2 separate regions of the Homo sapiens genome follow, and region 1 is linked to region 2. Evidence: fine-mapped expression QTL. A gene starts in region 2. The other region holds a variant in brackets. All regions are shown on one strand. Distances are from middle to middle.

Region 1 (4,403 bases), 74 kb after region 2:
TTACTTAGTGATAATAATAATAATGACAATAAAGGAGTACAAATCTGACTTGATATTAGTCTGGCTGTAGGAAGGGGTTTTAATTAATGTACTTGCCACTTCCTTCACAGTGTAAATTAAGCAAAATAATAAAAATTGGTTTGTGTTTCTATAGGTATTTTTAGGAGATTATTCTTCAGAGACAAGTGAAGATGATGATTCACTGAAGTGTATGGGTTACTGTCCTCAGATAAACCCTTTGTGGCCAGATACTACATTGCAGGAACATTTTGAAATTTATGGAGCTGTCAAAGGAATGAGTGCAAGTGACATGAAAGAAGTCATAAGTCGGTAAAATAATTGTCTTTAGATTCCTTTTGTTACTTAGAGGAAAGGTTTGCATTTCATATTTTTAAAATTTCATAACAAGCATTTCTGTGGACAATGATTTTTATAGAAAATGTTTATTACTTTTTCATATATTCTTTATGATATATGAAAATATACTGATAGCTGTAAATTATGATAGTTATAAAAAGGTCATTTTTTAATTTCTAGTTACAGGATAAATATACCTATAGATATCATGAAACTTATTTTAATTCAAAGTGAACCATTTTATCAAGATATTAATTTATTTAAAATGATGTAAATTGGAGACTTTTGCCCTTACCTACTTATAATAAGCTTCGACTAAGTAACTATTCTAGAGAAAACAACATCAGGGATCACACCCAGTTGGTATTTGTGTTTATATATATCATGGTATTCTCATTTTGTATTGTTCATTTTGCAGAATAACACATGCACTTGATTTAAAAGAACATCTTCAGAAGACTGTAAAGAAACTACCTGCAGGAATCAAACGAAAGGTACTTTCATTAAACACCAAATAATGCCTGTATTTTTATTGATAGTTTAGTACCTGATATTGTCTTGATAGATTCCTTATAGTGAACCTTTGTTAATTTCCCACCCATCTTTTTCTTTCCATGTAGTTGTGTTTTGCTCTAAGTATGCTAGGGAATCCTCAGATTACTTTGCTAGATGAACCATCTACAGGTATGGATCCCAAAGCCAAACAGCACATGTGGTGAGTATGGTACTTGTGACACAGTACATGATACTTTAGAATAGAACAGTTTCTTTTATTATAATAGTTTAATGTTAGTTATATGTACATCTTGATTTTAAATCCTATTCAAACGATACACTAGTAATTAAAAATTAAATAGATTTAGAGATTTCCTTAAGCTTTTAAAACTTTGCATATTTTTCATGAAGTGTTCATAATATTTTACATATTCCGAAACAGAAATAAGCATGAGTCATTATTAAGATAAAGAGTTCTAGTGTTCTGAATAGTTTTTAAGTTTTTTTCTAGTCATTTAGCATACAAATGATCTTTTCCATAATAATAGTGTCTTAAATTTATGTTGAGACTCTTTCTAGGACAGTCATGCATTGCCTAATGACAGAGATACATTCTGAGAAAGGTGATGTTGTCGTTGTGCAAACATAATAGAGTGTACTTATATAAATCTCTGGGTGGTTATAGCCTACTACACACCTAGACTATATGGTATAGCCTATTACTCCTAGGCTATAAATCTGTAGAGCATGTCACTGCACTGAATACTGTAGGCAGTTGTAACACAATGGTATTTGTGTATCTAGATGTATCTAAACACAGAAAAGATACATTATAAAAGTATTATAATCTTATGGAATCACTGTTGGAAATGTGTTTCATCATTGACTGAAATGTCATTATGCAGTGCCTGTAAAGTACTAATTAGTTGAACAACTCTTTTTTTTTTTTTTTTTTTGAGTCAGAGTCTTGTTCTGTTGACCAAGCTGGAGTGCAGTGGTGCCGTCTTGGCTTACTGCAACCTCTGCTTCCCAGGCTGAAGCGATTCTCCTGCCTCAGCCTTCCAAGTACCTGGGACTACAGGCAAGAGCCACCAAGCCCGGCTAATTTTTTGTATTTTTGGTAGAGACAGGGTTTCACCATGTTGGCCAGGCTGGTCCCGAACTCCAGACCTCAGGTGATCCGCCCCCTTCGGCCTCCCAAACTGCTGGGATTACAGGTGTGAGGCACAGTGCCTGGCCTTGAACAACTCTTTAAGCCTCAACTTCCATGTCTATAAAATGTAAGGTTTGGTTTGGATGCATGTTACGGTTTTCTTATGATTCAAAGCCTGTTTTGGTTATAACATGAAAAGGCATCAATTTTAAAATTTATTTGTTGTCATACTTTTAGCCCATATTAACATTTGAAATCATAGATTTTTTTTTTCCATTTGACAAGCTTTCAAAATGAAGGGAAAATAAATTAGAATATAAAAGTCATGGCCTGGCGCAGTGGCTCACGCCTGTAATCCCAGCACTTTGGGAGGCTGAGGCAGC[A/G]GACCACGAGGTCAGGAGATCGAGACCATCCTGGCTAACACGGTGAAACCCCGTCTCTATTAAAAATACAAAAAAAAATTAGCCGGGTGTGGTGGCAGGCACCTGTAGTCCCAGCTACTCAGGAGGCTGAGGTAGGAGAATGGTGTGAACCTGGGAGGTGGAGCTTGCAGTGAGCCGAGATCGGGCCACTTCTCTCCAGCCTGGGGGACAGAGCGAGACTCCGTCTCAAAAAAAAAAAAATCATAGTTGGGCAGGATGTAATAGCCATAGCAATTGATATTTGGTAAGTTTTAATTAACTTAATTAACCAACCGGTTGGATTTTTAAAAACCCATTTTTTTTTAACAAACAGATGTGTTCCTCTCTTTTTGTTTTATTTATGTTTTATAGGCGAGCAATTCGAACTGCATTTAAAAACAGAAAGCGGGCTGCTATTCTGACCACTCACTATATGGAGGAGGCAGAGGCTGTCTGTGATCGAGTAGCTATCATGGTGTCTGGGCAGTTAAGGTTGATGTCTAAATAGCGTGCCATTCAGGGGAAGAGGTTGGGGGTTGGATTTTGAAAGTCATCATTTCAAAAACATGGCAATAGTTAGTAATTTAAATGTTAAATATTTTAGTTTTTGAGTTAGCTTTTGATAGATTGACTTGGAAGTATGTTGAGTTTTTTAAAAATATGGCTGTCTACTTTGAATTTGAATTCACTTAATATTTCAATAACTTGGAATATTATTTTTAGGCATAGTACTTGTTATTTCAAAAAATTGTTATATATTGGATTAATTATGTAACACAAATATGAAATAAACATATGAGTTTCTACTTACATAAATAAATAATTGAGTAAAGAAATGTGTCAGAGAAGAGGTACATCTTCCTTACAGAACAATTCCAAATAATAATATATGTAGATAATACCCACTTCAAGGGAGGAGGCTTAATCTCCTATCCCCCAAGTTTGGACGGGACTTAGCCAGTTTCTTGTAAAAAATGAACGACAGAAGGAGAAAAATAGTAACTTTACAGTTGAGAAAGCTGGCAAATACTACCTTAACTAAACGATGTTGTGCAGATATCATGTATTCACTGATATGATATGATGGAAAAAGTACTACAGCTGTGTAATATTCTCTCCAAAACCCATAACCCAAGTGTAGTCATGAGAAAAATATCAGACTAACCCAAATTGAGGGACCTTCTAACACACACCTGACCAGTACTTCTCAAAACTGTCAAAATCATGAAAAAGACAGAAAGAGTAAGAAACTGTCACCCACAGTTAGAGACTAAGGTGACGTGACAGCCAAGAACACTACGGTATCCTGGATAGAACCTGGAATAAACAAAGGACACTAATAGAAAATTGGTGAAATCTAAATAAAGTATGGAGTTCAGTGACAAGGAATGTACCAATGTCGGTGTCTCAGTTGTGAGGAATTTACCATGGTAATATAAGATGATAAGATTAGGGAAACTGAAACCGGATAAAGAGTGTATGGGGATGCTGTATTTTCTTTGTAATTTTTCTCTAAATATAAAGGTATATTTTTTTAAAATGTAGTTATATGTGTGAGAGATTATTCTTTGAAGCTGTCATTTTATATCTGAGCTTTCTTTTAAAAAATTACTTCAGATGTATCGGAACAGTACAACATCTAAAGAGTAAATTTGGAAAAGGCTACTTTTTGGAAATTAAATTGAAGGACTGGATAGAAAACCTAGAAGTAGACCGCCTTCAAAGAGAAATTCAGTATATTTTCCCAAATGCAAGCCGTCAGGAAAGGTAAAATTTTAAAGAATGTGGTTATATTTCTTTATAGAGCAAAGGTTATAAAAAGTTATTATATTAAGGATTAAGTGAAAAATCATCTTTTCATTCATAGACCATATATATATATATCTCTGTGTGTGAATATATATGTATATTTTTTCATATATATGAAATATATGTATCTGTAGATAGATAATTTATATATCTCTCTCTGTATTATCACCAATACTGGACTAATGAAG
Region 2 (4,403 bases):
AAATCCTAGGCCATTGAGAATTTGTAACTAAAATGTTCTAGATGTTTCCAAAAGAGACAGAATATATCAGGGATAGTTTTCATTACATGCCTTCTTTAGTTTCCTGGTGTAGTTTTTTGAATATACTTATCTCCCTTTCCCCCATCCCCATTGCTAGATCTTTTAATCCAGGGGTCCCCAATCCCCAGGCCAGAGACTGCTACCGGGATCTGTGGCCTGCGAGGAACCAAGCAGCACAGCAGGAGGTGAGCGGAGGGCAAGTGAGTGCAGCTTTATCTGTATTTACAGGGGCCCCCCATGGCTGGCATTAGGGCCTGAACTCCGTTTCCTGTCAGATCAGCAGTGGCATTAGATTGTGATAGGAGCGAGAACCCTATTGTGAACTGCGCATGTGAGGGATTTAGGTTGCGTGCTCCTTATGAGAATCTAATGCCTGATGATCTGTCACTGTCTCCCATCACCCCCAGATGAGACTGTCTAGTTGCAAGAAAACAAGCTCATGGCTCCCACTGATTCTACATTATGGTGAGTTGTATAATTATTTCATTACATATTACAGTGTAGTAACAGTAGAAATAAAGTGCACAGTAAATATAATGTGCTTGAATCATCCCCAAACCATCCTCCCTCCCCCAGAAAAAACTGTCTTCCATGAAACTGGTCCCTGGTGCCCAAAAGGTTGGGGACCGCTGTTTTAATCATCAAGGATTCTGACGAACCTCTTTGAATTTTCTATTTAATTCATATTCCATAAGTAAAACTTGATTCCTTGTTTGTTTGTTTTTCCCCTAAGAATTTAGAAAGCAGAGTGCATGTTGGGGAGACCTGGTTTAAATTCGAGAAGCAGATAACACAAAGACAAGTAAAAAAAAAAAACATGATGTACACAGGATTGACAGAATAAAAAAAAAGTCTTTGTGCAAGGGAATGTGACTATACAGAAATGTGGAGAGGAAAATACGTAATGTTAGTGTTAATAACTTTTGACCCCATTTAGGTCACTTTGAGTAATGAAGCTCAAAACACTAGATTATATTTTTAGCAAAGTAAGTGCAGTATCCAGTCTCTCACAGATGTCATGTGTCTCAGGCCGTTTGGAAAATTCAGCATCTGCCGCATTCCCAGTCTTTGATGAGGACACTCCGCGAACTACAAGCACCCTCAGTGGGAGGACCTCCCAGGTCGGGGTGTGAGGGCCAATGAGGAGGCTGGGGAGGGGAGGCAAGAGTTACGGAAACGGGGCCACAGCACTCCAGATGCCGCGGCGGGAGGAAGCGGGGCTGCAGAGGACTCAAAACGCGTTCAGAGAGGCCCATCCAAATGCCAGGAGACAGACGGCAAGGATGCTTAAGAGGAGACGTGACTGGGCGAGGCAGATGAGGAGAGGGCCGTGGGCCAAGGTCACCCGCTAAGAGGCGGCAGGTTTACCACTGAGACACGAGGCCGTGGTTTTTGCCCGTGCCTCCAGAAAGAGCGTGGCGAGATCCCCGCAGAACCCAGGCGTGGGAGGCCCTGGGGAAGAGCCACGAGGCCCGACTCTAGTGGCTCAGGGGCCCTGGGCAGCGGCGCGCCACCGCTCGCCCCACCCTCAGCCGCTCTCCTCTTCCGGGCGCGCTGCTTGCCTGCGTGCGCCGGGACGCGCGGGGCCGAGCGTCTGAAGCGCGCCCGTACGCGGAGCGGCGCTTTCTAGGAGCCCCGCCCTCAGGTGCGCTCTGCAGGAGGCGGGGCGCGACTTCGGCGCCGCCAGCTCTGCCTGCGCCAGGAGCGCGCGGGTGCGCGCGGCCGCGCCCTCGCACAGATCCCAGCTGGGTCACCCGCACTGAGTCAACAGACTGAGCGCGTCCAGGCCTGACAGCTCTGCGGCTCGGGCCCTGAGGTGAGGCGGGCGTCGCGGGCGGCGGCGGCGCTTGAGGCTAGCCTGGGACAGCCGTCCCTGGGGGAGTTGAGGGGACGAGGAGGGGCTGGCCAGCGAGGGACGGCGGGGAGAGAAGGGGAGTTCGGCGTCTGAGGTGTGGGGTGAAGCGGGCTCGGAAGCGGGCAGAGGCGGCGAGCTGAGGGAAACAGACCTCCCTCAGCTCCCGGGAAGCGCGGGTTGCCAGCCTCGGGGATGCGGTGGGAGCGCCCAGGATGCGGACGTGAGGGGGTCGGGGCCCTGCGGCGGGGGCTCCGCGAGGCTCCCCTGGGACCGGGTCCGGCCGTGGGACTTCGGGACACTGCCTTTGCCTGGACGCTGTCGTTCCACCCTCAGCAACCTCAGGGAAAGAAGGAAAACAAATATTGATGTAAATTTCCGTCTGAACAGCTGGGTAATGAGCGCTTGCTCTTCCCTGCGAGGTTACGCGCGGATCATTACCTTGCGTGTTAAAAGGAGTTTCAGTGAGAAGAAAATGCGCAGATCTCATGACACAGTTTGGGAGGGAAATTCCCTGATCCTAAAACACGAATAGGAGCTCCAGGCATGGAAATACTTAATTGGATCGGAAAGCTGGGCAGGCTGGAGCTATTAAGCTGAAGGAGGTTTTCCCCTGGGCTCCTCAGGCTTCGATTTACGTTTTAAATAAATAAGTCCGAAAATAATGAAGATAATAACCACGTTTACTTTCTACAAGGGCGTTCTGAAGGAATCTAAGGGAAGAGGAGTATTTGCTGGACTACAGCTTTAAGCCAGGCTCGGTATTAGCTCTTTTCATTCTGACAGCAACCCTGTAGGATTGGAGGGGGTTATTCCAGTTGGGCAGGTGTGGAGAATGGGCCTCAAAGAGGTTAAGTAACTTATTAAGGTCTCAGCTAGTAAAAGGATGGAGTTGAGATTCCAACCCGGGCTGCCAGACCCTAATTCTGGTGCTTTATTTAGTATATTTTGTGTTTGCCGGGAGAGCAATATTGTATGTGTTTTAGGGAAGACTCCATAGTAGGGAACATTATTAGGGCAGTTAGGGCTTTGTGGGTATTTGTGTTAAAATCAAACTAAAGAGGCGTTAATCTTTGCATATGTGCTGTTTGAGTATATTTCCTTTCAAACAGATTTAGTGTAGGGAAATCTTACATTCACTATAAGAGCAAATTTATTAGTACATTCCATGTGTATTGCATGTCTTTTATTTTTAAAGAGACAGCGTCTCGGGCTAGAGTGCAGTGGTGCGATCAAAGTTCACTGCAGCCTTGAACGTCTGGACTCTAGGGACCCTGCTGAATAGCTGGGGCTACAGGCGTGTGTCACTGCGCCCAGGTAATTTTTTATTTGTTTTTCAGAGACGAAGTCTTGCTATATTGCCCAGGCTGGTTTGTTGCATGTCTTTTACATTCCAGATACCATACTATGTGCCAAGAGTACCGATATGAATACAATTTATAATCTCTGTCCTTGAGTTTAGTTGAGAGGGTGATTGCATAAAAGAATTTTATGATATTGTACTAAGTCATAACTTTTCTAGTATGTAAATTAGTTGGATTAAAAATAGTTTTAAGGGCAAGCTTTTAAGGACCTATTATGCATAAGAAAATTTATTGGATGACTTGTCCTCTGTGTACCATTGCATTGTTATTTTCTCCCTCAGCAAGAAACACTGTGATAAAATTTAGGTTAAATTATATTGACAACTAGCATTTTTTTTTTTTTGAGACAGGGTCTCATTCTGTCACCCAGGATGAAGTGCAGTGGCAGGATCTTGGCTCACTGCAGCCTTGACTTCGCAGGCTCAAGTGATCCTCCCACCTCAGCCTCCCAAGTAGCTGGGACCACAGTTGTGTGCCCCTACGCCTGGCTATTTTTTTTTTTTTTTTTTTGGTAGAGACAGTGTCTCTCTATGTTGCCCAGGTTGATCTTGAACTCTTGGGCTCAAGCCTTCCTCCCACTGGGATTGCCACGTGAGCCACTGCACCTGACTGCATTTTGTTTTATTATTGCACCACCTTACAGTAAATTTTAAAGCAATAAAGAAGATGAGAGCATTTATAATTTATCCCTTTTTAAGCTAAAAGGCATATTTTGTAGTGCTTTTATTTCATTGATTGAGAAGCAAATGATGTAGCTAGGCAGGAGTTTGTTTCATGTGCCAGATATGTTCCTAATTTCTCATTCCAAAAATATCTTAGTTTAAAAGTGTAGCTAATACCAGATTGCATTTAATTTCTTGTGTTTCAGAGTTGTAATGAAATCAGTCTTCAGTTTAGGCTGAAATGGCACATTGTTGAAATGTATAACATTACTTTGTGGTGGATTTTGGAAATCTCTTTTAATTGCTTCAGTTTTCTCAGTAAAGTAGGATTCAAGGTCATAATCTGAGGGTGATCCTACAGATGGAAGCTTTGGAGATTTGGGGATTGGGAAAGTGATGGACTAGTGGAATATGTGATTGCTAGGAAATTAAACATGACTCACAGTTGTGAAAAGTACAGTAGAG

What was found. PIP is the estimated chance that this variant, and not a neighbour inherited with it, causes the effect. A credible set is the group of variants that fine-mapping cannot tell apart.
Region 1: its variant is the best candidate, but not a certain one, in a credible set for the expression of ABCA5 in whole blood (INTERVAL, PIP 0.59).

The regions. Positions count from the first base shown.
Region 1 is chr17:69,250,242-69,254,644 of GRCh38, reverse strand. ABCA5 (ATP binding cassette subfamily A member 5) reads left to right here. Exons shown (of 39, transcript NM_172232.4): 32 at 155-330; 33 at 776-851; 34 at 978-1,072; 35 at 2,779-2,898; 36 at 4,024-4,173. Among named protein-coding and RNA genes, the nearest start is that of PRO1804, 17 kb to the right of the region's middle. The variant A/G (reference allele first, on the strand shown) is at 2,389.
Region 2 is chr17:69,324,525-69,328,927 of GRCh38, reverse strand. ABCA5 (ATP binding cassette subfamily A member 5) reads left to right here and starts at 1,795. Exons shown (of 39, transcript NM_172232.4): 1 at 1,795-1,876. RefSeq lists an enhancer at 1,289-1,428 and silencers at 1,509-1,888, 2,019-2,108.